4 linked regions of the Homo sapiens genome follow. The protein of the gene in region 4 interacts with the protein of the main gene of each other region in a biochemical or structural test. Each region holds a gene or a part of one and is shown on either strand. Other genes may lie near its edges.

Evidence for each region.
Region 1: the proteins of UBD (region 4) and MAD2L1 form a complex in vitro, tested with the Homo sapiens proteins (2 studies listed by BioGRID).
Region 2: the proteins of UBD (region 4) and HDAC6 form a complex in vitro, tested with the Homo sapiens proteins (2 studies listed by BioGRID, with this or other methods).
Region 3: the proteins of UBD (region 4) and NUB1 form a complex in vitro, tested with the Homo sapiens proteins (6 studies listed by BioGRID, with this or other methods).

The regions. Positions count from the first base shown.
Region 1 is NC_000004.12:120,056,840-120,063,866, reverse strand, and holds part of MAD2L1 (mitotic spindle assembly checkpoint protein MAD2A), read left to right. Parts: intron 1-1,771; coding exon 1,772-1,892; intron 1,893-2,889; coding exon 2,890-2,993; intron 2,994-3,576; coding exon 3,577-3,749; 3' UTR 3,750-7,027. UniProt on the Homo sapiens protein: Component of the spindle-assembly checkpoint that prevents the onset of anaphase until all chromosomes are properly aligned at the metaphase plate.
Region 2 is NC_000023.11:48,819,047-48,825,483, forward strand, and holds the end of HDAC6 (protein deacetylase HDAC6), read left to right. Parts: intron 1-1,059; coding exon 1,060-1,209; intron 1,210-3,138; exon of another isoform or gene 3,139-3,217; intron 3,218-3,573; coding exon 3,574-3,748; intron 3,749-3,865; coding exon 3,866-4,542; intron 4,543-4,625; coding exon 4,626-4,739; intron 4,740-4,875; coding exon 4,876-5,022; intron 5,023-5,119; coding exon 5,120-5,248; intron 5,249-5,497; coding exon 5,498-5,566; 3' UTR 5,567-5,930; downstream 5,931-6,437.
Region 3 is NC_000007.14:151,344,794-151,351,820, forward strand, and holds part of NUB1 (NEDD8 ultimate buster 1), read left to right. Parts: intron 1-554; 5' UTR 555-556; coding exon 557-673; intron 674-4,279; coding exon 4,280-4,447; intron 4,448-6,630; coding exon 6,631-6,689; intron 6,690-7,027. UniProt on the Homo sapiens protein: Specific down-regulator of the NEDD8 conjugation system. Recruits NEDD8, UBD, and their conjugates to the proteasome for degradation. Isoform 1 promotes the degradation of NEDD8 more efficiently than isoform 2.
Region 4 is NC_000006.12:29,556,724-29,564,297, reverse strand, and holds the start of UBD (ubiquitin D), read left to right. Parts: upstream 1-4,565; 5' UTR 4,566-4,596; coding exon 4,597-4,623; intron 4,624-6,524; exon of another isoform or gene 6,525-7,574. UniProt on the Homo sapiens protein: Ubiquitin-like protein modifier which can be covalently attached to target proteins and subsequently leads to their degradation by the 26S proteasome, in a NUB1-dependent manner.

The sequences.
Region 1 (7,027 bases), on a different chromosome or scaffold from region 4:
GGCTAATTTTTATATTTTTACTAGAGACAGGGTTTCACCATCTTGGCCAGGCTGGTGTCGAACTCCTGACCTCGTGATCCACCCACCTCTGCCTCCCAAAGTGCTGGGATTACAGGCATGAGTGGCTGCTCATGTTTTGTTTTGCTGGCCAATTGTTTTGTTTTGAATGTAATTTCCTCTAGCCTTTTTCAGGGTCTTTATCCTGTTCTCTCTTATATTTTCTGCTTCTGTGTTTTGATTTTAATTATCCCCATTGGTTTCATCTCTCCAGTTTTAAAGGAAGAGCAAATTACCACCCAGTCTCCTTTTCAGAGTGAAACTAATAAAAAGTTGTTGATAAATGCCAGGGATCACAAGGCCCACAGGCCACATCCAACAAGTGGCCTGTTTTTGCACTGCCCACAAGCTAAGAGTGTTTTTACACTTACAGGTTTGTTTAAAAATAAGCAACAGAGATCTTGGTGGCCAATAAGCCTAAAATATTTAGTAATTACTCTGTTTCTTTACAAAAACTTCGCTGACTCCTGAATATGCTGTTTCAATTTCCAAGATTACTTCAAGGCTCAATCTGAGCCCCCGTTCTGTGTTTATAATTTCTCTATAGGTGATCTCTGACCTGTGTATAGCTTCACTAACAACCTCTGTGTAGTCAGCTCACAAACTTACATCTATCCCAAGCCTCTTTCTCCAGACTCATATATCCAGCAGCTATATCTTTATGTAGCTATCCCAGAGACAATGTACACTCAAGTATACTAAAAACTAAATTTAGGATCATCTCCAAGACTGATACTCTTTAATTCTCTTTTTTTCTCTCAATGAATGACTAAACCGTCCAGCCAGAAATAAAAGAAACTTGGAAGCTGTCCCTGAATCATGCTTCTTCCTTACTATCGTGACTAAACCCAATACGTTTTAACCATGAAATCTCTTAAATCTACCTATTGCTCCATATCTACCAGTTTATCCTCCTACAAGCTTTCATTAACTCTTGCTTGAATTACTGATTGACTAACTAGTGTCTCTAGATCCCCTCTTTAACATCTCCAGTCCACTTTCCGTATCACGGCTAGAATGATAGTTTTGAAATACAAGTCTAATTGCTTTACATCCTGTTCACACACAGTAATGACTTCCCTGGTCTTGAAGTATATATTTTTTTAATTTGATCCACCAGGCTTTGCATGGTCTGGCTCCTGTTAATCTTGCAAGGATTACTTTGTTTTATTTTGTTTGTTTGTTTCTTGATTGCACTTGTAGTGGGCTGCTTCCAGCCCTCTATATGCTCTTCCCTTGGCAGTATTTGAGGCCTGTATCTTCTTTCGTATCCTTTTGCATATTTAATGCTGTTTATCCCTAGAGCTAAACTCAGACCTTTTCTGACCTCCCTGAGTGGCTCAAATTTTCCTTTTTTTATGCTCTCATTGCATCTTACATCTTTCTTTCATAGCAGCCATTACAATGATAATTTCTCATTTATTGGTGTGATGAGTAGATTAATGCCCATCTCCTATGCTTTTATGTTGGATTAGGATGAAACTACCACATGTTCAGTATTCTGTCCTCAGCACCAATTACTGTACCTGATACAGATACTGAGAATTTGAAAACAGAAGTTAGATTATTGATGGTGCAAATTTTCTTGCACATAGGAGGAGGTCCCAGATAGCAGTGGTAGGAATTTGCTGAGGATAGGGAGTGGGACCCGAGAAGAGAGCTACTTTATGATGCAGTGGACCAAGAAAGATGCCTTCCTTTTTATATGTTGCAGATTGGTTATACAAGTGTTCAGTTCAGAAACTGGTTGTAGTTATCTCAAATATTGAAAGTGGTGAGGTCCTGGAAAGATGGCAGTTTGATATTGAGTGTGACAAGACTGCAAAAGATGACAGGTAAATAGGAATTACATTATTTCTACTTTGATATATTTTTTTTCAAAACTTGTTTTTATTACTAATTGAGTTCTAATTGTATTGAACTAGTTTTATATAAAATATAGTTTGTTTCTAATTTATATTTTCTAAGATATCCTCAGTCACCTATGGAAAAGAATTGTGCTCAGTTTAGCATATCATTGATTTGTATATATAATATAATTTTAACATAATTGCCTTTAGTCTAAATCAGTAGTTTTCAAACAGTATTTATGGTGATATATACAAAACTACACATGATATACTAGATGAACCATTTAATAATTGTTCTAAGATATTTTTAACTATAAGGAATGATATTAGACTCACACAATTTAAGATGTAGCTCTGCTGTACTTCCTTTAATGCCATCTACTTCCTAAGACACTTCATAAATTTCTGAAGGTTCCAGACTCCCTGGAAGAGAAATGCATTGTCCTAGGCATGCTCTTCTATAAACTGAGAACCATTTCTTATAGTGAAATGTAGTTTGCTTCTGAAGGCTTTGGTGTATTTTAGGAAATTTTTAGCTTATAAAATAATTTGATATACAATTTAATGTTTTATTTGAGAAAATAGGAAATTAGACATTTAGGCATTACTAAAAATGCTGAAATGATTATACCAATACATATTTTAGATATCACTTATTTTTATTTCAAGAGATGCTGAAGTTTCCTGAACTTGAAGTGATTGGCAAATTTTCTAGTCATCTGATACTAAATGACCTGACACTAAGACCAGCTCTAAAAGATGACTGGCAGGATAAATGAAGTAATAAGGATGAATGTTGTGCCTACTAGGTTGTAGGTCTGAAGGATACTTTCACTCACATTTTTTACAAACCTCCTTTCTCAAATAAGCCCTGCTTATTTGATGTTGAGAGCATTTAATCAGATAAATAATCTAACCACTATGTTTGAAATAATTTGTTAAGACCTGAAATGAATTAATTGATTTGATTTTTTTTTGACAGTGCACCCAGAGAAAAGTCTCAGAAAGCTATCCAGGATGAAATCCGTTCAGTGATCAGACAGATCACAGCTACGGTGACATTTCTGCCACTGTTGGAAGTTTCTTGTAAGTATTATACAACTTCTTGTTGAATTAAATTGATTGGCAAAAAGACTAAGCTACTGCCGTAATCACCCCTTTATTAAATTTTGTCTTATTTATCAGATTTATGTAATATAAATTGAAGGAAAAACATTATCATGCAAAAGTAATGTATCGTAGTCTCCCTTTCCACAGGGAGACCCACAGTGAATACCTGAAACCATGGATAGTATGAACCCTATATAATGTTTTTTTCTTATGCATACATACCTATGATAAAATTTAATATGTAAATTAAGCATAGTAAGAGTTAATAATAAACTGGAACAATTATAACAATATGCTGGCATCACTATTCTTGTGCTTTGGGACCATTATTAAATAAGATAAGGGTTACTTGAACACAATCACTAAATTGCACGGAAGTTAGATACAATATTTTCTTTACTGAAATAAATGTTCATTGAGCAAAATAAATTAACTAGTGATTGGAGACCAAGCCAAATGACCTTTTCCAGCAGTGAGTGGTTCAAAATAGAAGAGAGGCAGCAAGATTAGTTTTACTTTTAGAAAATAATATACTTCAATGATCTTATCCCCAATTTAGGTTCATTTGATCTGCTGATTTATACAGACAAAGATTTGGTTGTACCTGAAAAATGGGAAGAGTCGGGACCACAGTTTATTACCAATTCTGAGGAAGTCCGCCTTCGTTCATTTACTACTACAATCCACAAAGTAAATAGCATGGTGGCCTACAAAATTCCTGTCAATGACTGAGGATGACATGAGGAAAATAATGTAATTGTAATTTTGAAATGTGGTTTTCCTGAAATCAAGTCATCTATAGTTGATATGTTTTATTTCATTGGTTAATTTTTACATGGAGAAAACCAAAATGATACTTACTGAACTGTGTGTAATTGTTCCTTTTATTTTTTTGGTACCTATTTGACTTACCATGGAGTTAACATCATGAATTTATTGCACATTGTTCAAAAGGAACCAGGAGGTTTTTTTGTCAACATTGTGATGTATATTCCTTTGAAGATAGTAACTGTAGATGGAAAAACTTGTGCTATAAAGCTAGATGCTTTCCTAAATCAGATGTTTTGGTCAAGTAGTTTGACTCAGTATAGGTAGGGAGATATTTAAGTATAAAATACAACAAAGGAAGTCTAAATATTCAGAATCTTTGTTAAGGTCCTGAAAGTAACTCATAATCTATAAACAATGAAATATTGCTGTATAGCTCCTTTTGACCTTCATTTCATGTATAGTTTTCCCTATTGAATCAGTTTCCAATTATTTGACTTTAATTTATGTAACTTGAACCTATGAAGCAATGGATATTTGTACTGTTTAATGTTCTGTGATACAGAACTCTTAAAAATGTTTTTTCATGTGTTTTATAAAATCAAGTTTTAAGTGAAAGTGAGGAAATAAAGTTAAGTTTGTTTTAAATTTGTCTTAAAACATTTTGATACTGGTTTGGTGTTGATATAGTTAAATGGTAATTAGAATTGATTCAGCATAGCTAATGAATTCTTGTTCCTACGAAGTTATAGAACTTAAGGGTCCAAAGTTGAGTGAGTCTTGAGGTGTCTTCAATCTAATGGATAAACTTTGATCACATCCTGTTCATCTCATAGCAATAGACTTAAGGCTATTACTTCATCATTGTGAAAAGATAAATGTCCTTTGGAATTAGTCCAACAATTCCAGTTGAACAAGTGTTGATTTTAGTACTTTACTATACTCTTAGCCTTATTGTCAGCCTACTTTTCCTTATATACTTAAATACTATGCTTATTCCTGTGCTTTCATTAATACCCTCATCTGGTACATGCTTTCTATCCAGTTCTCACCTGTTTTTCCAAGGTCAGTTTAAGGCAGATTTGTAAAGTCTTCTCTAATCTCTAATCTAAATCTGACCTCATTTTGTAAAAATTCAGTTTATTAATGTTTATTATTAGACACTAAGTTCTTTATGTGTATTAACTTATTTAACCTTCACTATTTTTAAGTAATTGCACATAGTCTGAATCTGTTCATTCAGAAATTACATATTGAGCAAATACTGTGGATCAGTGGCAGTTTCTGGGTTCTCAGTGACAAATTTGTAGACTCTTCATATCTTTATGGAATAAGTGGACCACTGGTGTTACCAACCTAGATGATTTCAAGAAAAGTGGCAATTAAATGCTTCATTTGTATTTTAACTATTTGAGAAGTCAGACTAAATTCTGCGAAATCACTTTTCCCCCCCAAGATGGAGTCTTATTCTGTCGCCCAGGCTGGAGTACAGTGACGCAGCTCAGCTCACTACAGCCTCTGCCTCCCGGATTCCAGCCATTCTTCCGTCTCAGCCTCCTGAGTAGCTGGGATTACAGGCACGTGCCACCACACCTGGCTAATTTTTATATTTTTAGTAGAGAGAGGGTTTCACCATGTTGGCCAGGCTAGTCTTGAACTCCTGACCTCATGATCTGCCCGCCTTGACCTCACAAAGCATTGGGATTACAGGCGTGAGCCACTGCGCCCGGCTGAAATCACATTTTTAAAGGTTGTGTGTATACTCTGGTCATTTCAACTCAGCTACCAATATTAACAGGATTAAATTCTTAGATTTTTGTATCATTTGCATGCTACTATTTACTCTGAGGTTTCTGGAGAGCTAGTCATGATGAGTCATTTTACCCCTTACAGATTATATAATCAATTAAGAAATACACATTTTGGGCTGGGCGCAGTGGCTCGCGCCTGTAATCCCAGCACTTTGGGAGGCCGAGGCAGGTGGATCACGAGATCAGGAGTTTGAGACCAGCCTGGCCAAGATGGTCAAACCCCGTCTCTACTAAAAATATAAAAATTAGCTGGGCGTGGTGGCGGGCGCATCTCAGCTACTTGGGAGGCTGAGGCAGGAGAAATCGCTTGAACCCATGAGGTGGAGGTTGCGGTGAGCCAAGACCGTGCCACTGTACTCTAGCCTGGGCGACAGAGCAAGGCTCCATCTCAAAAAATAATAAATAAAAAAGAAATACACATTTTGGAGCTGAGTGGGAGCCAAACTATGAGTTTTATTGAGGTGAAGCTATACTGGAAAAGCTTTGCCCTGTAGCTCCAAGTGGACTGTCCCATCCTCTTTCTAGACCTTGAGGCTTACCTCAGGAGGATGATGTTTAAATCAACAGCTGAAAGACTTGTGAGTGGTTTCTACACCATGTTAAAGAGAAGGTTCTAAGACAGCATGATAGGCCTCTAGGCCTGGCCTGGACTCTGGCTCAGTGTTGCTTACCATATGTAGAGGATGAACAGAGGTTAAGCCCATCAAGGTCTGAAGTAGAGCCCAGGAGGAACTGAACTGTATCTGGCTTTCAGGATCCTTTTCCCAGTGTCATCAATCAGAGAAGTCAAACCTCTGTGAGAATGCTTGTGCAGAGGTATAACAGTCTCATGTATTGGTTGGCTTTTGCTGCACCTTTCTCATTCTGTTGGAGGGACATTGGTTAGTCAGGACTCTGAAGGCCAGCTTTTTCACACTGACCAAAGCAAGTGAAGGTCAAGCCTAACTTTAATGGGACCAGGAAGTATACTCCTCCCATGGAGGTGGTGGGAATGGCACCGAGAAGTTTGATGACAGTTATCTAATGGACTAGAGGTTGGCAAACTTTCTGTAAATGGCCAGGTAGTAAATAGTTCTGCTTTTGAAGGCATATGGTCTCTTGCACCTACTCGAGGCTGAAAGCAGCTATAGACAATACATAAATGAATGAGCGTGAGTGTGTTCCAATAAGAAAAAAACATGGCTGTTTGCTTCGGCCCCAGGGTTGTAGCTTACCAGTCCTGTAACAGATCACAGTTTGCTCTTTTGGTCACAAATACTTGAACCCCTCCCTAGTTCAGAGCATTTGATACCGTAATATTTAAAGCTCACTTGTAAAACATCGTTTGTTGCCTCCATCCATAGTATCTCAAACAGAATGTCTCTCCCAAATATACCTAAATTCCATATTCTCTGAAGCACAACCAGCTATTTTCTTGACATACTTCCTAAC
Region 2 (6,437 bases), on a different chromosome or scaffold from region 4:
GTGTGCATCTTTGGATCTGCATGTGCATCTGACTGTGCATGGGTAGCCAGGACAGCCTTCTGTGTGTGTACAACTGTATGTGCAAATAACCAGCTCTTGTGGACATACCAGAGTGCATGTCGCCATTGTGGCTGTGTGGTGATGGCATGTGTATGTGACTGTGCAGGATGGCTGTGGGTTATTGTCCTCTTTGAGAAACTGTGTGTGTGTACATGACTAGTGCAGATATATAGTACTGATCTATATGGTACTGTCTGTGTGGCAGTACGTGTGGCTCTGTGTGACCATCTTCTCTGTATGTGGTTCTTGCGTTGCCATCTTCTGTTTTGGAAGTGTGCAAGCACCTCTCTTTGGCACTATGTATATAAAACCCTGTATCTTGTGTATGTGTGTCCCACGTTTGACCCTGGGGTATGTGTGTGTGAGGACATGTCTCTGTCTCTCTGTTTTTCATGTCACTCTCTTGACGTGTCAGTCTGTCTCATGTCCCCATCTGTCCCTTTTTTTTTTTTTTTGAAATGGAGTCTTGCTCTGTCACCCAGGCTAGAGTGCAGTGGTGCAATCTCGGCTCACTGCCAGCTCCGCCTCCTGGGTTCATGCCATTCTCCTGCCTCAGCCTCCTGCGTAGCTGGGACTACAGGCTCCCGCCACCACGTCTGGCTAATTTTTTGTATTTTTAGTAGAGACAGGGTTTCACTGTGTTAGCCAGGATGGTCTCAATCTGACCTCATGATCTGCCCGCCTCGGCCTCCCAAAGTGCTGGGATTACAGGCCTGAGCCACCATGCCCGGCCCCCATCTGTCCCTTTCTGCCATCTCCATGTCTCTAAGTCTGCATCTATTTCTTCTACCTCTGAGTCTGTATTTCTTTTCTTCCCTTCTTCATTTTCAGTCTCTGCTTTTGTGTCTCCTAGTCTCCAGGTTCTGTGTCTCCATCTCTCTGACTTGCATCTCCATGTCTTCATTTGTCCTTTTCTCCATGTCTCTGGGTCGCCATCACTTACTGCCTACCAAAAGCCCCTACCCTCATGCTTATACATCTCTTCTCTCCCTGCCTCAGTTTAACCCAGAACTGGTGCTGGTCTCAGCTGGCTTTGATGCTGCACGGGGGGATCCGCTGGGGGGCTGCCAGGTGTCACCTGAGGGTTATGCCCACCTCACCCACCTGCTGATGGGCCTTGCCAGTGGCCGCATTATCCTTATCCTAGAGGTAACTTTCTCTTGGTCCCTCTTCCCACAGTGGGAGGGTAGTTTGGAAATGTTGGCACCATCACTCAGGACAGTTTCCTGAAATCTCCTTTGAGTGTCCCTGCCTGGGATTGTTGGCACATACTGGGTAGTAATAAGAATAACAGCAACATTAACAGCCTTAATTGAGTGCTCACTATGTGCAGAGCACTCTTCTGAGCACCTCATGTGTCTTATTCATTCAGTTACTTGGCAAAGCAGCCTTATGAGGTAGGGTAAGCTTACCTCATTTTCCTCTCTGAAGATCAGGGAAACTGAGGCACAAAGAGGTGTGATGACTAGCCTGAGATGGCACATTTACTGATGGCAGAACCAGGACTTGAACCCATGCAGCCTGGCTCCAGGGTTTGTGCTTTTTACTCTACCTGAACTGCCTCTAACAAGTTCCTGGGACAAAGGAAATTCACTGACCTTTGTAAATGACTCAGTATCCCCACGCCCTGTGCCTCAGTTTCCTCATCTTTATGAGGCAGGCTAATCATGGAGGAATGCCTGGCATATGGTAAATGCTGGATCTTTTGGATCTGGTTTTTTGTTGTTGTTGTTGTTGTTGTTGTTTGTGAGACAAGAGTCTCGCTCTGTCACCCAGGCTAGTCTGCAGTGGCATGATCTCAGCTCACTGCAGCCTCCACCTCCCGGCTTCAAGTGATCCTCCCACCTCAGCCTCCTGAGTCGCTGGGATTACAGGCACCCGCCACCACGCCCAGCTAATTTTTGTATTTTTAGTAGAGATGGGGTTTCACCATGTTGGTCAGGCTGGTCTTGAGCTCCTGGCCTCAAGAAATCCACCCACCTTAGCCTCCCAGAGTGCTGGAATTACAGGCATGAGCCACCGCACCTGGCCCCTGGTTACTGTTATGCGTTGTTCAGATATTAACCCACTCAGCAACCTTCTGTGCTCTTATTTTCTTTTTCTTTTTCTTTTTTTTTTTGAGACGTTGTCTTGCTCTGTCGCCCAGGCTAGAGTGCAGTGGTGCGATTGTGGCTCACTGGGTTCAAGCAGTTCTCTGCCTCAGCCTCCTGAGTAGCTAGGATTACAGGTGCCTGCCACCACACCCAGCTAATTTTTTTGTATTTTTAGTAGAGACGGGGTTTCACCATGTTGGCCAGGCTGGTGTTGAACTCCTGACCTCGTGATCCACCTGCCTCAGCCTCCCAAAGTGTTGGGATTACAGGCATGAGCTACCATACCTGCCTCTTTTTTTTTTTTTTTTTTTTTTTCCTTTTGAGACAGAGTCTCGCCGTGTCACCCAGGCTGGAGTGCAATGGCGCTATCTCGGCTCACTGCAGCCTCTATCTCCCAGGCTCGAGCAAGCAATTCTCATGCCTCAGCCTCCCGAGTAGCTGGGACTACAGGCGCATGCCACCACGCCTGGCTAATTTTTGTATTTTTAGTAGAGACGGGGGTTTCACCATGTTGGCCAGGCTGGCCTCAAACTCCTGACCTCAGGTAACCTTCCCGCCTCGGCCTCCCAAAGTGCTGGGATTATAGGGGTGAGCCACCGCGCCCAGCCTGTGCTGTTATTTTCACCACTTTACAGATGAGGAAAATAAGTCACTGAGAAATTAATTGGCTTGCAAAAAGTCGCACTTACTATGTGCCCAGTACTGCTTGTGACAGGACACGGTGGGAGTTAAGAACACAGATGACTCCATCAGAGAGCCCAAGTTCAAACCCCAGTGCTGCCTCTTCAGCTGTTATGACCTCGGACAAGTCATCTAACCACTCTGAGCCTCAGTTTCTTTATCTGTAAAAAGAATAGCAACTGGGATTCCTGTAGAGTGTAAAAAAAGTCAATACAGGAGTCCATGTGGAGAAAGAGTCCAGTTGTTCCTGTACTAGGTCAGGGCAGGGGCTTTTGTATGGGTTCACAGCAGTCGTCTTGTGCAGGTCAGGTCAGTGGTTACTGTATGATGTGAGGCCAGGGGTTCCTGGACAGTGTGAAGACGGATTTCTGTATGGCATGAAGGCAAGTTCCTGTATAGATTGAGCGCCTGTGGTTGTGAGGATTGAGTTAATATGCATGAAGTACTTAAAATCGGGTCTGGCACACAGCAAACAATAAATGTCAGCTGTTACTAATGCTTTTATCAGTATTGTTATCTTGCACTTTACATCACAATTTACTCCCCACAACAACCACCTTACACAGTGGGTGCTGCCTATCTTAAAGGTGTGGGTTCTGTTCACTTGTTCTCAGTACTCCCCCTCCCTCTCCAGACTTGCAGGGCTCAGTAGGGAGGATTGGGGAGGCAGGACATGTTGTCCTCCAAATTCCCCAATGAACCCCCACCATACCTTTCCCTCCCCTTTTCCTTAACAAAGGGTGGCTATAACCTGACATCCATCTCAGAGTCCATGGCTGCCTGCACTCGCTCCCTCCTTGGAGACCCACCACCCCTGCTGACCCTGCCACGGCCCCCACTATCAGGGGCCCTGGCCTCAATCACTGAGACCATCCAAGTCCATCGCAGATACTGGCGCAGCTTACGGGTCATGAGTGAGTGGATTTGGGGGTGATGGGGGGAACCCAGGGAAGGAGGGGGCTGAGGGGCAGAGATCAGAGGCAGGAAGGGTGACAGTACCCACACTCAAGGATCTCCCTCCCTGGTTCCAGAGGTAGAAGACAGAGAAGGACCCTCCAGTTCTAAGTTGGTCACCAAGAAGGCACCCCAACCAGCCAAACCTAGGTTAGCTGAGCGGATGACCACACGAGAAAAGAAGGTTCTGGAAGCAGGCATGGGGAAAGTCACCTCGGCATCATTTGGGGAAGAGTCCACTCCAGGCCAGACTAACTCAGAGACAGCTGTGGTGGCCCTCACTCAGGACCAGCCCTCAGAGGCAGCCACAGGGGGAGCCACTCTGGCCCAGACCATTTCTGAGGCAGCCATTGGGGGAGCCATGCTGGGCCAGACCACCTCAGAGGAGGCTGTCGGGGGAGCCACTCCGGACCAGACCACCTCAGAGGAGACTGTGGGAGGAGCCATTCTGGACCAGACCACCTCAGAGGATGCTGTTGGGGGAGCCACGCTGGGCCAGACTACCTCAGAGGAGGCTGTAGGAGGAGCTACACTGGCCCAGACCACCTCGGAGGCAGCCATGGAGGGAGCCACACTGGACCAGACTACGTCAGAGGAGGCTCCAGGGGGCACCGAGCTGATCCAAACTCCTCTAGCCTCGAGCACAGACCACCAGACCCCCCCAACCTCACCTGTGCAGGGAACTACACCCCAGATATCTCCCAGTACACTGATTGGGAGTCTCAGGACCTTGGAGCTAGGCAGCGAATCTCAGGTAAGGCTCACCACACCCAGGTAGGGGCAAGAAGGGGCAAGAATCGGGCTTCTCTGATACATCTCTTACTTCTGCGTGTCCAGGGGGCCTCAGAATCTCAGGCCCCAGGAGAGGAGAACCTACTAGGAGAGGCAGCTGGAGGTCAGGACATGGCTGATTCGATGCTGATGCAGGGATCTAGGGGCCTCACTGATCAGGTGAGCTCAGGGAGAGGCTGGGACTGTGGCTTCCTTCTCTTGCCAATTTGTGTCTCCAGGTAGGAGCATGTGATGAATAAACATATAATGGGGAGATGGGGTCTTCAGCTTACCTAGTTTCACCCACCCACTCCAGGCCATATTTTATGCTGTGACACCACTGCCCTGGTGTCCCCATTTGGTGGCAGTATGCCCCATACCTGCAGCAGGCCTAGACGTGACCCAACCTTGTGGGGACTGTGGAACAATCCAAGAGAATTGGGTGTGTCTCTCTTGCTATCAGGTATGGAGCAGAGGAAGGGGATGGGGCGGAGGTTGGCCCGGGAGCAAACTGCAGGGGGATGCTGACCCCCACCTGACACTCACACCCCCAACCTCAGGTCTACTGTGGTCGTTACATCAATGGCCACATGCTCCAACACCATGGAAATTCTGGACACCCGCTGGTCCTCAGCTACATCGACCTGTCAGCCTGGTGTTACTACTGTCAGGCCTATGTCCACCACCAGGTGGGCCCTGGGTAGACCCTTCGACACGTGCACACTCACCCCCCACACACACACCCCTTCTGTGATTGGGTAAAGGGAGACCACAGGCCCCTCTGCATGGCTGCCTCATGTGATTATTTTGCATGGGGCGGGGGCTGTGGGATAGTCCAGAAGACAGAGTGGTTGAGGGCTGGAGTGGGGGCAGCCCTGCAGCCGAGGTAGAGGGGTCCTCACTCTCTCTCACCTGCCCTATTCTTGCCTCCTCCTCAGGCTCTCCTAGATGTGAAGAACATCGCCCACCAGAACAAGTTTGGGGAGGATATGCCCCACCCACACTAAGCCCCAGAATACGGTCCCTCTTCACCTTCTGAGGCCCACGATAGACCAGCTGTAGCTCATTCCAGCCTGTACCTTGGATGAGGGGTAGCCTCCCACTGCATCCCATCCTGAATATCCTTTGCAACTCCCCAAGAGTGCTTATTTAAGTGTTAATACTTTTAAGAGAACTGCGACGATTAATTGTGGATCTCCCCCTGCCCATTGCCTGCTTGAGGGGCACCACTACTCCAGCCCAGAAGGAAAGGGGGGCAGCTCAGTGGCCCCAAGAGGGAGCTGATATCATGAGGATAACATTGGCGGGAGGGGAGTTAACTGGCAGGCATGGCAAGGTTGCATATGTAATAAAGTACAAGCTGTTAAAAAACCTGGAGAAAGCTTTTTGACTTTGAGCAGGTGGAGAACCCCACATCCCTGGCCAGCAGAGCCGATGAGTAATGAAGGAATGAGGGAGTGGGTCTCTGTCAGGTCAATCCCCTGCCCATCCATTGCCCCCAAAAAACTAACTGAAAATAGAGCAGCCATCTTGACTGGCTCCACGGGATATAAAATGGTAGAATCCATGAGAAAATGGGTGCTTGCCTTATAAATAGGAGCCTCACAGCCAGTCCCAGCCACACCCACACCCTAGGCTGAGAAGGCAAGAAAACTAGCAGGAAGTATCCTTACCAGGCCTGTTTCCCCACTGTCTCATTGGCCTGACTGGGGATGGTGGGAGGTCCAGGTTTAACTTGAATGTGGTGGTCATGGTAGCTTCTTGGCAGAAGGGGTGCCTGCCATTGACCACAGGTGGGAAATTGGAGGACAGTCTGAGAGCTGAATTTCTCCCACGTGGTGAGAATTGCTTTGGCAGCTCAAGGGAGTTGGATCTGAG
Region 3 (7,027 bases), on a different chromosome or scaffold from region 4:
ATTCGAGACCAGCCTGGCCAACATGGCGAAACCCCGTCTCTACTAAAAATATGAAAATTAGCCGGGCGTGGTGGCGCATGCCTGTAATCCCAGTGAGTAGGGAGGCTGATGCAGGGGAATTGCTTGAACCCAGGGGGCGGAGCTTGCAGTGAGCCGAGATCGCACCACTGCACTCCAGCCTGGGCGACAGAGCGAGACTCCGTCTCAAAAAAGAAAAAAAGAAGTTCACGACTCGAGGGATTTATCTTTCTCTTATTTTCTCTTTTCTCTTAGATAAGAGAATAGCAGATTAAGAAATAGAAACATGTAATAATCCTTGCTACATATTAGCAACTTTGAAATACATATTTTATATATGTAATATATATAATTGAACATATATTTCTATATATATTTTTAGAGAAGTCTGGAGCTCATTTAAACCATAGTAATTTATATTTAATGACAGAGGAAGGGAGCTTTGCTTACCCAACAAAGCACCTTAACATGTAGGTAAGTTATTAACATTTTAAAATGCGATGTGGAGTTTTATTAATGTATTGTTTTGCTTTCAGGGATGGCACAAAAGAAATATCTTCAAGCAAAATTGACCCAGTTTTTAAGGGAAGACAGGATTCAACTTTGGAAACCTCCATATACAGATGAAAATAAAAAAGTTGGTTTGGCATTAAAGGTATTTTTCTTTTAAGACATCAATAATTAGCAGCATTATAAATCTCCTTGGTAAATAAGATTCTGAATTGTCAGGCATGACCATATAAACTTTTGGCATAACCAAAAGCATTAGTGGTGAGCGGGTACCCACTTTTTACTAGGAACTGACAACCTTATTTTTGTTCATTAATATTTTATTCACATGAGGATGTTATCTAATTTTTCAGGCATATATTTTTAATACCATCACAGGATTACATAACATTATTTATCTGGAACTCATTTTGACCCATTAGTGGAACAGTATTGGTGCCAGTAAGTAATTGCATTGTGTGTTCAAAGTGACAGTGTCTTGGCTCATTCTCGGTCCTCCTTGCTATCATCATCTGCTGTGAAACAATTGCTCCTTTTTCCCCCAGTTTTTTTGATGCTCTCACTATCAGTGTTCATTTTTCCAAAATAGGTTTTTTCTAACAGTTGTATCTCAGTTTTTCATGGCATCATCAGAAATGATATTGTATGTAAGTGATGTTTCTAGAAACTGAAGTCTGCTTGCTTTTCTAAGCAGAGAAACAGTACTCATTTTTGCCAGAAATCTATCATACTGGAATTTCCTAGCATGTACTTCTCTGCTCTCATTCAGAGTATCCTGAACATGATGTAACATTTATCAGGGACTAAGGATTGTCATGAGGCATTAAATTGCTCTGTGTTGTGACATAATGATGTGCTTGGGAGGTGACAAACTGTATTAGGGTCCTAGTTCTTCTGTTTCTTCTGTTCCAGGCAGGCCTCACTTTTTCTTTGCAACCCACCTTCTGACCTTGCTTCTGAATTTATTGTTACAGTCTCTTGGTTTAGAAACTAGGTGTGGCATAAAGGAAAAATATTTGACCTTTGTCCCTGGTTCCTGGCAGAGCCAAAACTCTTGGGATTTCCTAAGTGGTAAGCATGATAGGAGCAACCTTTGTGCTCATGAGGCTTGGTTGCCCCTAGATAGCTTCAGGATGGGGCTGGTCACCAAAAGTACCAAGCCGTGATTAGACACTTGAAACTTTCCACCCTCCCCTCCAACCTCTGGGAAGGGGAGATTGAGCTGATGACTAATACTAATGGTCAGTGATTTAATCAGGCCTGCATAATGAAACTTCCATACAAACCCCTAAGTGACAGATTTTGGACAGCTTCCAAATTGGTGAACACATCCACATGTCGGGATGTACACCCCCAACTCCATGGGACAGAGGCTTCTATGCTCAGGACCCTTCCAGACCTTGCCTTAGTACCTCTTCATGTGAATGGTTATTTGTATCCTTTGTAATGAACTATATTCATAAGTATACCATTTTCTGGAGTTCTGTGAGTTGTTCTAGCAAATCATGGAACCTGAAGGGGGTGCTTGTGTGAACCCTCGACTTTGTAGCTAAGTCAGACAAAAGTATGGGTAACCTGGGGACCAGATACTTGGTAACTGGTATCTGAAGTTAGGGCTTTTTTGTGGGCTGAGCCCTTAAACCTGTGGAGTCTAACGCTAACTCTGGGTAGTTAGTGTCAGAATTGAATCGTAGGACTTCCAGTTGGTGTCAGAATTGGCTGGTGACAGGAGGAAGAAAGAAATCCTCACTAGTTAGGTTTTCTAGAAAATTATAGAAAGTTTTTAAAAAAGTATTTATAATATATATTCTAGGTTTTAAAAAGTATGTATATAAATACAAAAATATAAAGAATGTATTTTTAAAATATGTTAAACATCGTTAACATAGGTATATTCTTCCTCTTTTCCTACGTAACTATTAAAAAAATGTATTGCTGGACACAGTGGCGCATGCCTGTAGTCCCAGCTACTCAGGAGGCTAAGGCAGGAGGATCACTTGAACCCGGGAGTTGGAGACTGTAGTATGCTATGGTCCCACCTGTGAATAGCCACTGCACTCCAGCCTGGGCAACGTAGTGAGACCCCGTCTCTAAAAGAAAAAAAAAGTATATATAGGTTTATGTTACTTACAAAATTTTTTTTCCTTTTTTTTTGAGACAAGGTCTTGATCTGTTGCCCAGGCTGGAGTGCAATGGCATGGCCATAGTTCATTGCAGCCTCACACTCCTGGGCTCAAGTGATTCTCCCACCTCAGCCTTGGGAGTAGCTGGGACTACAGGTGCATGCCACCATGCCTGGCTAATATATTTTTAGTTTTTGTAGAGACGGGGTTTCACTTTGTTGCCCAGGTTGGTCTTGAAGTCCTGGGCTTGAGCAATCCTCTCACCTTGCCTTCCAAAGTGCTGGGATTACAGGCATGAGCCATCGCGCCCAATCTATACTCATATCTATAAAGTTTTCCAACTTCACTTTTATCATGAACATCTCTTCTGTCATAAATTTATGCTTACACCATAATTTTTACGTACTACATGGTATTACATTATGAATTTAATGAAACCTTGACCTTTAGGGTTTTTTGAAGTGTTTACTGTTTTATGAGATGTTTAATGAAACATTAACCTCACATGCAGATACAGATTGAGAGGAGTATCCCGTAACTGAAATATTTGGGACTGGAAGTGTGTTTGGATTTTGGAATGTTTGCTTTATACCTACTAGTTGGGCATCCTAATCTGAAAATTCAAAATTCAAAATACTTCAGTGTGCATTTCCTTTGAGCATCTCCAGATGCTGAATTTTGGCGATTTCAGATTTTTAGATTAGAGATACTCATCTGGATTTTTTTGGGGAGGAACCATAATGACTTTGCTCTCAGTAATAACTGGTTCCCATCCTTTCTTGAGCCCTTTCAATCTTCTTTTTTTTCTCAATTCTAAAGCTCTCCCTTACAAATAGTTTTACAACTAGTACCCATGATTCACAGATTTTCATTAAGAGAATTGTTTAAGTCCAACTTGATTTGTTCTCACAAGTTTGAAAAATTGGAATATTTTCTGGGTTTTTTTTTCATTTTCCCTTCCAGTGGAGTTGAACAGTTCATTATACTTTTTAAATAGATCACAGTCACATAAGTCATAGCCCACCCTTTTCTTCTCCTTAGAAGATTCTCTATTATTATTATTATTTTACTATTTGTAGGTAGAAAACATTTATCAAATAAATGTTTTTGTTTTTTGCTTTTTGCTTTTTTTTTTTTTTTTTTTTTTTTGAGGCGGAGTCTTGCTCTGTCACCCAGGGTGGAGTACAGTGGCACAATCTTGGCTCACTGCAGCCTCTGCCTCCTGGGTTCAAGCGATTCTCCTGCCTCAGCCCCCCAAGTAGCTGGGCCTACAGGCACACGCCACCATGCCCAGCTAATTTTTGTATTTAAGTAGTTATGGGGTTTCACCATGTTGGCCAGGCTGGTCCCAAACTCATCACCTCAAGTGATGCGCCTGCCTCGGCCTCCCAAAGTGCTGGGATTACAGGCATGAGCCACCGCGCCCAGTCTCAAATAAGTGTTTTCACTTTTTCCTGGCCTCTCTAAACTCCACACCTCTCAAGATGTCAAACCACAGTGTGGACTGCAGTGTAACGGGGCGACCTCCACTCATCAGAGTTGATGGCCTTAGAGTCTTTCATGCCCTTTTCTATATTTTGCCTTTTTTTTTTTAAGTCAGTATTGCATTTTCTGATTTTTCTTGATAGGACCTTGCTAAGCAGTACTCTGACAGACTAGAATGCTGTGAAAATGAAGTAGAAAAGGTAATAGAAGAAATACGTTGCAAGGCAATTGAGCGTGGAACAGGAAATGACAATTATAGAACAACGGGAATTGCTACAATCGAGGTGTTTTTACCACCAAGACTAAAAAAAGTGAGTAATTTCCCTAAATTTGAGTAGGCACTAATGTCCAGTTAGTGATGAGGTCAAATAAATTGTTGTTGTTTGGAAAGTTACAATCCAAAGTCAGAATTCTTTTAAGTGACTTTACATATTGAACAATTTATCAGCTTGAAAGTCAATGTTACAAATTCTTAAACTGGAACATTCCCAAGGTAGGCTTTTAGAGACCCTCTTGGGCTTCTAAAATGCCACAGAGCTGTATGTCACATTCTGATCCTTTCTAGCGTGTGAACGTTGAGAAATAATGGGGAATAAAGGATTCCCAAGTTTCCTAGAAGCCTGTGCAGGAGGACACAGCACAGAAGGCTTCATCCTTTTCCTGTTCCAGTAGAGGTCAGAGGGCAGTCCGCTGAGTGCTCTCAAGCAGGGCCGAGGAGATCTGGGTGGGGTCACCTCCTCTCATTGCCATGGCCAGGTAGTTTGCATCTAGAAATGTCACTGTGGCAAGGCACCCAGAGCCTCTTGGGACTGATCGATGCCAGCACTCTCAGAAGAAATAAGAGCATAGGCTCCAGCCCTACTGGGTCTGTGGTTTTTCTCCTCATGTGCGGAGACAAGAGATCGTAGAAATAAACACACAAGACAAAGAGATAGAAGAAAAGACAGTTGGGCCCGGAGGACCACTACCACCTAGACGCGGAAACCGGTAGTGGCCCCGAATGCCTGGCTGTGCTGTTATTTATTGGATACAAGGCAGAAGGGGCAGGGTAAGGACTGTGAGTCATCTCCAATGATTGATAAGGTCACAGGAGTCATGTGTCCACCGGACAGGGGGCCTTTCCCTTGTAGGTAGACGAGGCGGAGAGAGAGGACAGCTTACGTCATTATTTCTTCTATGCTCTTCTCAGAAAGATCAAAGACGTTAATACTTTCACTTTCTGCTGCTGCTATCTAGAAGGCGGAGCCAGGTGTACAGAGCGGAACATGAAAGTGAAACAGGAGCGGGACCACTGAAGCACAGCGTCACAGGGAGACGTTTAGGCCTCTGGATGGCTGTGGGCGGGCCTGACTAATGTCAGGCCTTCCACAAGAGGTGGTGGAGCAGAGTCTTCTCTAACTACCCCAGGGAGAGGCTCCCTTTCCCAGTCTGCTAAGTAACAGGTGCCTTCCCAGGCACTGGCGCTACCGCTAGACCAAGGTCTGCTAAGTAACGAGGGCCTTTCCGGGCACTGGAGTTACCGCTAGACGAGGGAGCCCTCTAGTGGCCCTGTTCGGGCATAACAGAGGGCTCACACTTGTCTTCTGGTCACTTCTCACTGTGTCCCTTCAGCTCCTATCTCTGTGTGGCCTGGTTTTTCCTAGGTTATAATTGTAGAACAAAGATTATTGTAATATTGAAATAAAGAGTAATACTACAAACTAATAATGATATTCATATATAATCATATCTATAATCTATTTCTAGTGTAACTATTCTTATTCTATATATTTTCTTTATTATACTGGAACAATTTGTGCCCTCGGTCTCTTGCCTTGGCACCTGGGTGGCTTGCCGCCCACATATATATTAATATGTAAAACCTCATACATGAATGGTCATAGCAACACTATTCAGTAGCTGAGAGATGGAAATAGTCCAAATGTCCATCAACAGATGAAGGGATAGATAAATGTGGTCTATTCATACGATGGAAAACTGTTCACAATGCAAAGGAATGAAGTGCTGATGCGTCCACAACGTGGGTGCACCTGAAAACATGATGCTCAGGGAAGAAGCCAGACACAAAAGGCCACGTACTGCACTATCCCATTTATATGAAATGTCCGGAATAGGCAAATCTGTAGCAGCAGAAAATGGATTAGTGGTTGCCAGGGGCTGGGGGGCAAAGGGGAGGGAATGGGGTGCAGGCCATGGTGTTTCTTTGAGGGATGGTGGAAATGTTCTGAAATGTTAAAGACGTCCAGCTGTGTGAGACGGCCCCTCTGAGCAGCCCTGCCTGGTGGTGCCACGCTGCCGCCCCCTTGAGGACGTGCAGGTCACAGGGTCAGCCTGTGCTGGGTTATGTTCAGTAGACTTCTAGGCAGGCAGCATTTTAGTTTTTAACAGTGAACTCAGTTTATATCCTCTGCCGTCAGCTTTTCTGATTTCACAGGGTAATCTCTCCAAAATGGGTTAAATTCAAGTACGTTTTACTTTGTCTTATTTTTAACAGGATAGGAAAAACTTGTTGGAGACCCGATTGCACATCACTGGCAGAGAACTGAGGTCCAAGTAAGTATCTGTGTGCTCTGTGTCCTAGGTGCTCTGGGCCTTTTTACATTGGCTTATTTGATCCTCTGTGAGCGTCCTCTTAAGATAGGTAGGGCAGGTATTATCTTCATTTTATAAAAGAGAAAATTGAGGCTTTGAGGTTGAAGGACTTATTAGAGCTGTCACTGGTAGGTAAGTGGCAAAGTGAGGACTCAAGACTTGCAAGCACTATTTCCTGGTGTAACTTCCGAGCAGGTGGGAACTCCATGCCTATCATATGGTAGGCACTTGGTGCATGTTTGAGTGAATGAGTGAGTGATACAAGCAGGAGACACCTGGTACTCACTAGCTCATTAGTT
Region 4 (7,574 bases):
ACCAAAAGAGTACTAATAGGATAAGTTCCTAGAAGCAGAATTGCTGAGCTAGAGGATATGAACATGAAAAATTTTAAATTATATTTTTATTATAATCTTTGATACTACAGATAAATAAATGTAACCCATATAGAATAATATAATGTAACACTATAAAACATAATAGTAGCATAATGAACACTCATGGTTTTTACATTTTTATAAGAGCCTTATTGCTTACATATGTAGTTCTAGATACTATATTCAGTTTTGCTTATGTTTAGTTTTCTTTGGAACATTTGTTTTAGATATTATTACTTTACCTTTAATAAAGTGAATATACGGTATGTCTCTCAAGTAATAAATTGCTTTAACAAACATTAAGTTCTCTTGGTTAAACTTCAGATTCTGAATATGGCAAGATGAAATAATATCAGGGCTTCTAATGCCCTCTTACTTCCTGTTGAAAATCTCCTTCAAGTAGCTTATATCAAAATTTAGATTGGGCTTCATTTTTGTTAAAAAGCAGACATATCCTGAATTTCAAGTAGTTCCTCTTTTTCTCTGTCTCACTATGTAGTTTTGCTTGCTTTTGAGATTTATGGAGAGTATCATACTTTATGTAGTCTTACTCATCTTGCTTTTGTTAGATATAGTGAACTCCAAGATTCTCTTCAAAGAATCAGTATGTCAGCATATTCATCTCTCTTATTCTTTGATTCTCCATTTGAAAGTTGAGCTTCCGGGTTCTCTTCACCCTCTTGCCTCTAGTTTCAGTAAACAACTTTCCTGTCAGTTCTAATCAGTGGTTCATATCTGTTCCCCTGGTCACCTGCTCCATCCGGAGTCACCCTCGGCCACCTGCTTTGATTTGAATCATCCTGAGTCACCTGTTCTGTAACCACCCTTCCCACCAAACTACCCACCCTGCCGCTCTGGCTCATACCCCTGCTCTCTTTAAAATAGCCAATCGGAATTAGCTTAGATTGTGTGGTCCAAACCTAGCCAATAGGGGAACGACACAGCAGTAGGGGCTACCTGCCTCAGGAATAAGAACTCCTTCCCCTCCCTTGTCCAGGTATGCTCTTGCCATTACTCCATCCGCGAGTCACACCCTTCTATAGAAGTAAAAATTCCTTGCTGAGAAAATTGAATTTATGTCTGAGTGCTATTTCTTTGCGGCACCGTGGAATAAGCATTTGTTTCTAACACTTTTTTCACTCAATAGGTTCTAGCACATTCATCTGTATCGTTGTTTGCAGGTATGATCCTTCTATTTATGCTGCTTATGATATTCTACAATTTGGTTACCTATTTCCCTAATACTGATAGGCATTTGGTTGTCTTGGTTTGGTATGTCCATGTTAAATTTTGGTAGGTATTTTCAAACTGTTCTTCTTTGAGTGTAGACTTTTTTCCCAATCACCAATAAATGAGAATTCACACTAGCTTTCTGACTGAGTTTGGTTGGCATTTTTGAAGCAATATTCTAGATCTCAAAGCAGTTTAGAAACTCTTTCATGGACGTTATTAAAGAGACTAGAAAGAGACATCTGTTCCAAGTAGGCTTCAAGTAGGCTTCAATGGGGGCAGTGACAGGCCCAAGAGCATCCCGTCAGCCAGGGCCACATTGGGACACTCGTAGATAACCGCCACAATTGTTTTATAACTTGGCAAGATCTTCATACCATCATCTTTTTACTTTTGTTACTGGAAAGGGATCCTGATCCAGCCCCCAAGAGAGCGTTATTGGATCTTGCACAAGAAAGAATTCAGGGTGAATCCATAGAGTAAACTGAAAGCAAGCGTATTAAGAAAGTAAAGGAAAAAAAGAATGGCTACTTTATAGGCAGAGCAGCCCTGAGGGCTGCTGGTTGACTATTTTTATGGTTATTTCTTGATTATATACTAAACAAGGGGTGGCTTATTCACAAGTTTTCCAGGAAAGAAGTGGGAAATTCCTGGAACTGAGGGTTCCTCCTCTTTTTAGACCATATAGAGTAACTTCTGGACATTGCCATGGCATCTGTAAACTGCCATGGCCCTGGTGGGAATATTTTTTAGCATGTTAATGTTTTATTTAGCATATAATGAGCAGTGAGAATGACCAGAAGTCACTTTCGTTGCCATCTTGGTTTTGGTGGGTTTTGGCTGGCTTCTTTACTGCTTCCTTTTATTTGCAAGGTCTTTATAACCTGTACTTTGTGCTGATCTCCTCTCTCATCCTGTGACTTAGAATGCCTAACTTCCTGGGAATGCAGCCTAGTAGATGTCAGCCTTATTTTATCCAGCCCCTATTCAAGATGGAGTTGCTCTGGTTCAAACACCTCTGACACTTTAGTTGGTTTTCTGAATTTGTCAGAGGGGTAAATGATGTAGTTTGGATGTTTGTACTCTCCAGATCTCATGTTGAAATGTGACCCCCAGTGTTGGAAATGGGCCCACTGGGAGATGTTTGGGTTGTGGTGGCAGATCCCTCATGAATGGCCTGGGGCTGTCATCATTGTAATAAATGAGTTCTCACTCCATTAGCTCACAAGAGAGCTGGTTGTTTAAAAGAGCCTGGCATTTTTCCCACTGTCTCTTACCTCCCTCTCTTGCCATGTGACACGCCTGCTCTCCTTCACCTTCCACCATGAGTAAAAGCTTCTTGAGGCCTCACCAGAAGCAGATGCTGGTGCCATACTTCTTGTATAGTTGGAGGAACTATGAATCAATTAAACTTTTTTTCCTTATAAATTACCCAGCCTCAAGTATTCCTTTATAGTATGCAAAAGAGACTAAAACAGCAAATGAAAAGAGATCTGTCTCTGAAAGAACTTATTGTGACATAGAGAGAGACAGAAAAAAGTCAGATTGACACTGGGTAAGAAGCAAGGAGGTCAGGTCCCAAGATGAAGTCCTGCCTGTGGTCAGCAAAGGGGCACCAAGGTGTCTGGGACAGTCCTGGCCCTGGCTTTGGGCAGGGAGGGAATTTCCCATAGGAAGGGAAGAGTAAAGAGAGAGAGAGAGGTCAGAGTCCAGGTTTGTTGTTCATATGTTTTCTTGAAAGGGCACTATTTCCCAGAATCCAGGTCATCTCTGGGTAGGGAATCCCCTGAATTAGTTTTTTCTGAGAGTATATTAGATTTGCCCTCACAGTAACCCCATGCTGGAAATACCCAACTCCAGTAGCACTTTTCTCCCTGCCTTTTCCCACTGAAATAACATAATAATATAGGAAGAATACAAGGACTATAGAAATACAGATTAGTGTTTGAACCCTTGCTTACCAGCTACTACTAATATGATTGTGGATGAGGTAGCTTCTTACTTATTAACGGGGATACTAATAGAGGTGGTTCCTTACAATGATTCCATTTATGATTTTTTATTTAATAGTGATACCAAAGCAATACATACTCAGTAGAAACCTACTTCAAGTTCCCATAAAATCATCTGCTTTTCACTTTCAGTACAGTATTTAATAACTTAAATGAGATATTTCACACTTCAGTAGTAAATACACTTTTTGTTAGATAATTTTGTCCAACTGTATGCTAATGTAAGTGTTCTGAGCATGTTTAAGGCAGGTTAGGTTAAGCTATGATGTTTGGTGGGTTAGGTGTATTAAATGCATTTCTGATTTTGGATATTTTCAGTGTACAATGGGTTTACAGGGATGTAACCCCATCATAAGTGAAGGAGCACCTGTACTTACTTCATTAAAATGCTGAAACAGTAAATAAGGTAACATTTAATAATATGTTGTGCAGTTCTTGAAATTTAAGTACTCACCAAATATTACTTTTCCTTTTTTTGTTATTTACTTACTTTTCATTCATTTATTAATTCATTTGTGCATTTAGTAAACATTTATAAATTATTTCCTGTGCCTGACAGCATGCTGGAACAGTGCTAAAGATACAAGTTAATTAAGACACAATCACGACCCCCAAGATTCCTACTCTTTTCTAAAGATTACAGACAAGCAGACGATGCTATTGTTGAAGAAACATGCTCTGAGAGGCATTTGAAGGAAGTGTAGAGGATAGAAGATGGACACATAACCCAGGATGGGGAGGAAAAGAGTTAGGGAAGGCTTTTTGACGAAGATACTGTTTACACCGTGTGTTCTTATAAATTCATGGTGGTGGGGATAGAGTTGGAGGAAAAGGCATGCTCAGTGGCGTGGAGATGGCAGAGAGATTGGGGTGTTCAAGGATATGCCGGGAATTCAAGGAACGAGAATTCCCATAGACACAGACACAGCTAGACATAGAGATCTGCAGCTTAGGTTTGGGCTGTGGGTATAGATCCAGGTGGCTTCAACAGACAAAGATCTTTCCTGAGAAAAGGGAAAAGTTTTCAACACAGAAAGACCATCCCATGTTTGGAATGAGGTTTGCAAATAGATTGCTTGAGGAGAGAAGTATGTGATCAGAAAGCATTCTTTGTCTATTAACTCCTGCCCAGCAAAAGTGAAAGAAAATTCATGGGAGCATGCAAGAACAAAGAGCACAGCAAAGCTGGACAAACACAGCAATCCAGGCAGGGGATTTCCAACTCAACTCTGGTATATAAGCTGCATGCAAAGTCCTTTTTCTGTCTCTGGTTTCTGGCCCCTTGTCTGCAGAGATGGCTCCCAATGCTTCCTGCCTCTGTGTAAGTTGGGATTTGATAAAGGGGATGGGGAAAGGAAAAGCACTTTCAAGAGTTGGGGAGAGATCTTAGAAACGGGGGCTGGGCAGTACTCAGGGCTCTGGGGGGCTGGGCAGGCATCCTTCAGGAGAAGAGGCTGGCATTGACATTTGCAGAATGGGAAGAGGGATTGTCTGAAGAGAAGCTGGTTATCTGGCTTCTGTGTTCTTTTTTAAATAAAACATTGGACTAGCTACTCTTAGGGATAAATGGTAGAAGAAAAAGTGGGGGTGAGCTTTGTGTTCCACAGGGCTGGTGAGATTTGAAATTATGGTAACATTTTTTAAGGTTCTTAAACTTAATCTTCCCTCTCCTCTCAAAGGAGAGCTTCACAAAACTCATTCATCTGAAGTTGTTAATGATCTAACACATTACATTATATAAGAAAATATGCACTATGGAGAGAACCTGGAATTAAGGCAATGCTTAACACAGATCTTCCAGTGAAGAAATGTCTGCAATATCTAGATTGGGAAAATATTTCTGAATGGAGTATGAGGGAGGTCTTCTCAGGCTTTCAAGTGGCCATTAGGGGTGAGTTTTCCCATCTTTTAGGATTTTCCAGCTATTGAAGTAAGACTTAGATATAGTCCCTACCTTCTGTGAGTGAGGCCCTAGTCTTATCAAAGGAGATCACATTCTATATTAGTGTTACCAGGGGGTCTTTGCTCCCAGAGCTCTCAAGATGGTGGTGGGCTGCTTCCAAAATGGCCGCAGGCCGCTTCCAAGATGGTGGCAAGCCTCGTGTTCTCTGACCTGGGGTTCTTGGCCTCATGGATTCCAAGGAATGGAATCTTGGGTCATGTGGTGGTTGTTACAGCTCTATTAGAAGCCATGGGTCACGGAAGAGAACCGTGGACCCAGTGACTAGTGTTCAGCTCGATTAGGAAGAACCTGGGCACTTAGCCGTGCAGAACAATGGTACGCCTTTAGCCCAATCAGGAGCGGCAATGGGCGCCTCACTGGTTCAGAAGCACAGCGGACACCCTGCCAGATCCGAGGGATGGAAGTCAGCCGCGGGTCTGCGACGGTGGCAAACGGCAGTGGTGGATGGCAAGCGAAAGCTCACCTCGAGCCGTAAGAAACATAGACCAGAAGAGTGCAGTTGCAAGATTTAGTAGAGTGAAGACAGAGCTCCCATACAAAGGGAGGGGACCCAAAGAGGGTAGCGTTGCTGGCTCGAATGCCTGTGTTTATATCCCGATCATTGTCCCTCCCGCTGTGATCTCAGGCAATAGATGATTGGCTATATCTTTACCTCCTGTTTTTGCCTAATTAGCATTTTAGTGAGCTCTCTTTACTACCTGATTGGTCAGGTGTGAGCTAAGTTGCAAGCCCCGTGTTTAAAGGTGGATGCAGTCACCTCCCCAGCTAGGCTTAGGGATTCTTAGTCGGCCTAGGAAATCCAGCTAGTCCTGTCTCTCATTAGATAGAAATAAAAACACAAGAAATATAAATTAACAAGAAACACTGAACATAGTGTCACGGTAGTATGTGAGTTATTATTATAAAGCAGTGGGATATTTGAAAAGAAACTAACAGTTCAGTGATTATGTGTCCTACCCAGGATTTCCTTCTGAAGTATTGACAGAGGGTATCCTATGGCTATGAGTATCTTCATGAGGCTGTCATATTTTGGAAATTCTCTTTGAGAGTTGTTTTTAGAGTCTGATGTACATCTTTTGAAGCCTCGTATTTACTTGTTGACATTTGACAAACTTTATCTGGATAGGAGAGGCAGGTAAATAAGGTGGAAAATCACTAATTACATTTTGAGATGGATAAAGGTATGTTTTTTACATCCATTGAAATGCACAGAAAAACGAAATGTAAAGATTGTCAACTAAAAAAAATCACACAATTCATAAATTTAGAAGGGGAGTTTATTTCTTATGAAAGGTTATAGTCTGCAAGGTAGCCATTCTGACAGGCTGGGAAGTTTTGCTTCTGATTGAAAACCAAAAGCAAGCACTTTGCAGGAGGAAAGGTGACACAGGAATTTATGCTGAAGGGGTTTGCTAAGTATACATATCCAATAGGTTATAGCAGAGGCAATGAATATTCATGGAGGGGGTCCTAATGCATGCATATTGAATAAGCTTGCATGTTACATACCACCCATGGTCACTCTGAAGTGGAGACTTAACATTTAATTGCATTACAGTTAGGCCTTATACATGAAAAGGTGAAGCAGGGACACAAAGGCATTCAAATGCACAGCTTCTGTAAACTAGCCAGAACCAGTCCATGGTCAGTGGTCTCTTATCAGGAGAAAATTACTGAAATCAGTCTTTTGTCCAATTAAAACTGTAGTTATGGCTTGTGGAACACGGGGTCAGTTAGCCTGTGTTCCCCAACACAGGGTGAGCTGTAATTGTTTTAATATTGTTCCTGTCAAGGCCAGTGCTTGTTTAGCTGCTAGAGAAAAAAGAAAAAACTTTGTGGCAGAACATAGTTTATTCTTTAAGTGTAAGGGATGCATGACTTAACTTTTGCCTGTTATAGCCCTCGGTCTTGTTTATAATTTGCTATCTTATTGCCACAAAGAATCCATTCTCTCAGTCTTATAATCTCTAACTTTGCTGGTCAGTTGTGTCTAAACTGCAAAAGGGAGAAGATACAATGAGGCATATCCAACCTCCTGTTCCATCATGACTGAATGTTTTATTTATTTATATTTTTGAGACAGAGTCTCACTCTGTTGCCCTGGCTGGAGTGCAGTAGTGCCATCTCCACTCACTGCAACCTCTGCCTCCTGGATTCAAATGATTCTCCTGCCTCAGCCTCCTGAGTAGCTGGGATTACAGGGACTTGCCACCACTACTGGCTAATTTTTGTATTTTTAGTAGAGACAGAGTTTCACCAAGTTCACCAGGCTGGTCTCGAACTCCCAGCATCAATTGATCAGCCTGCCT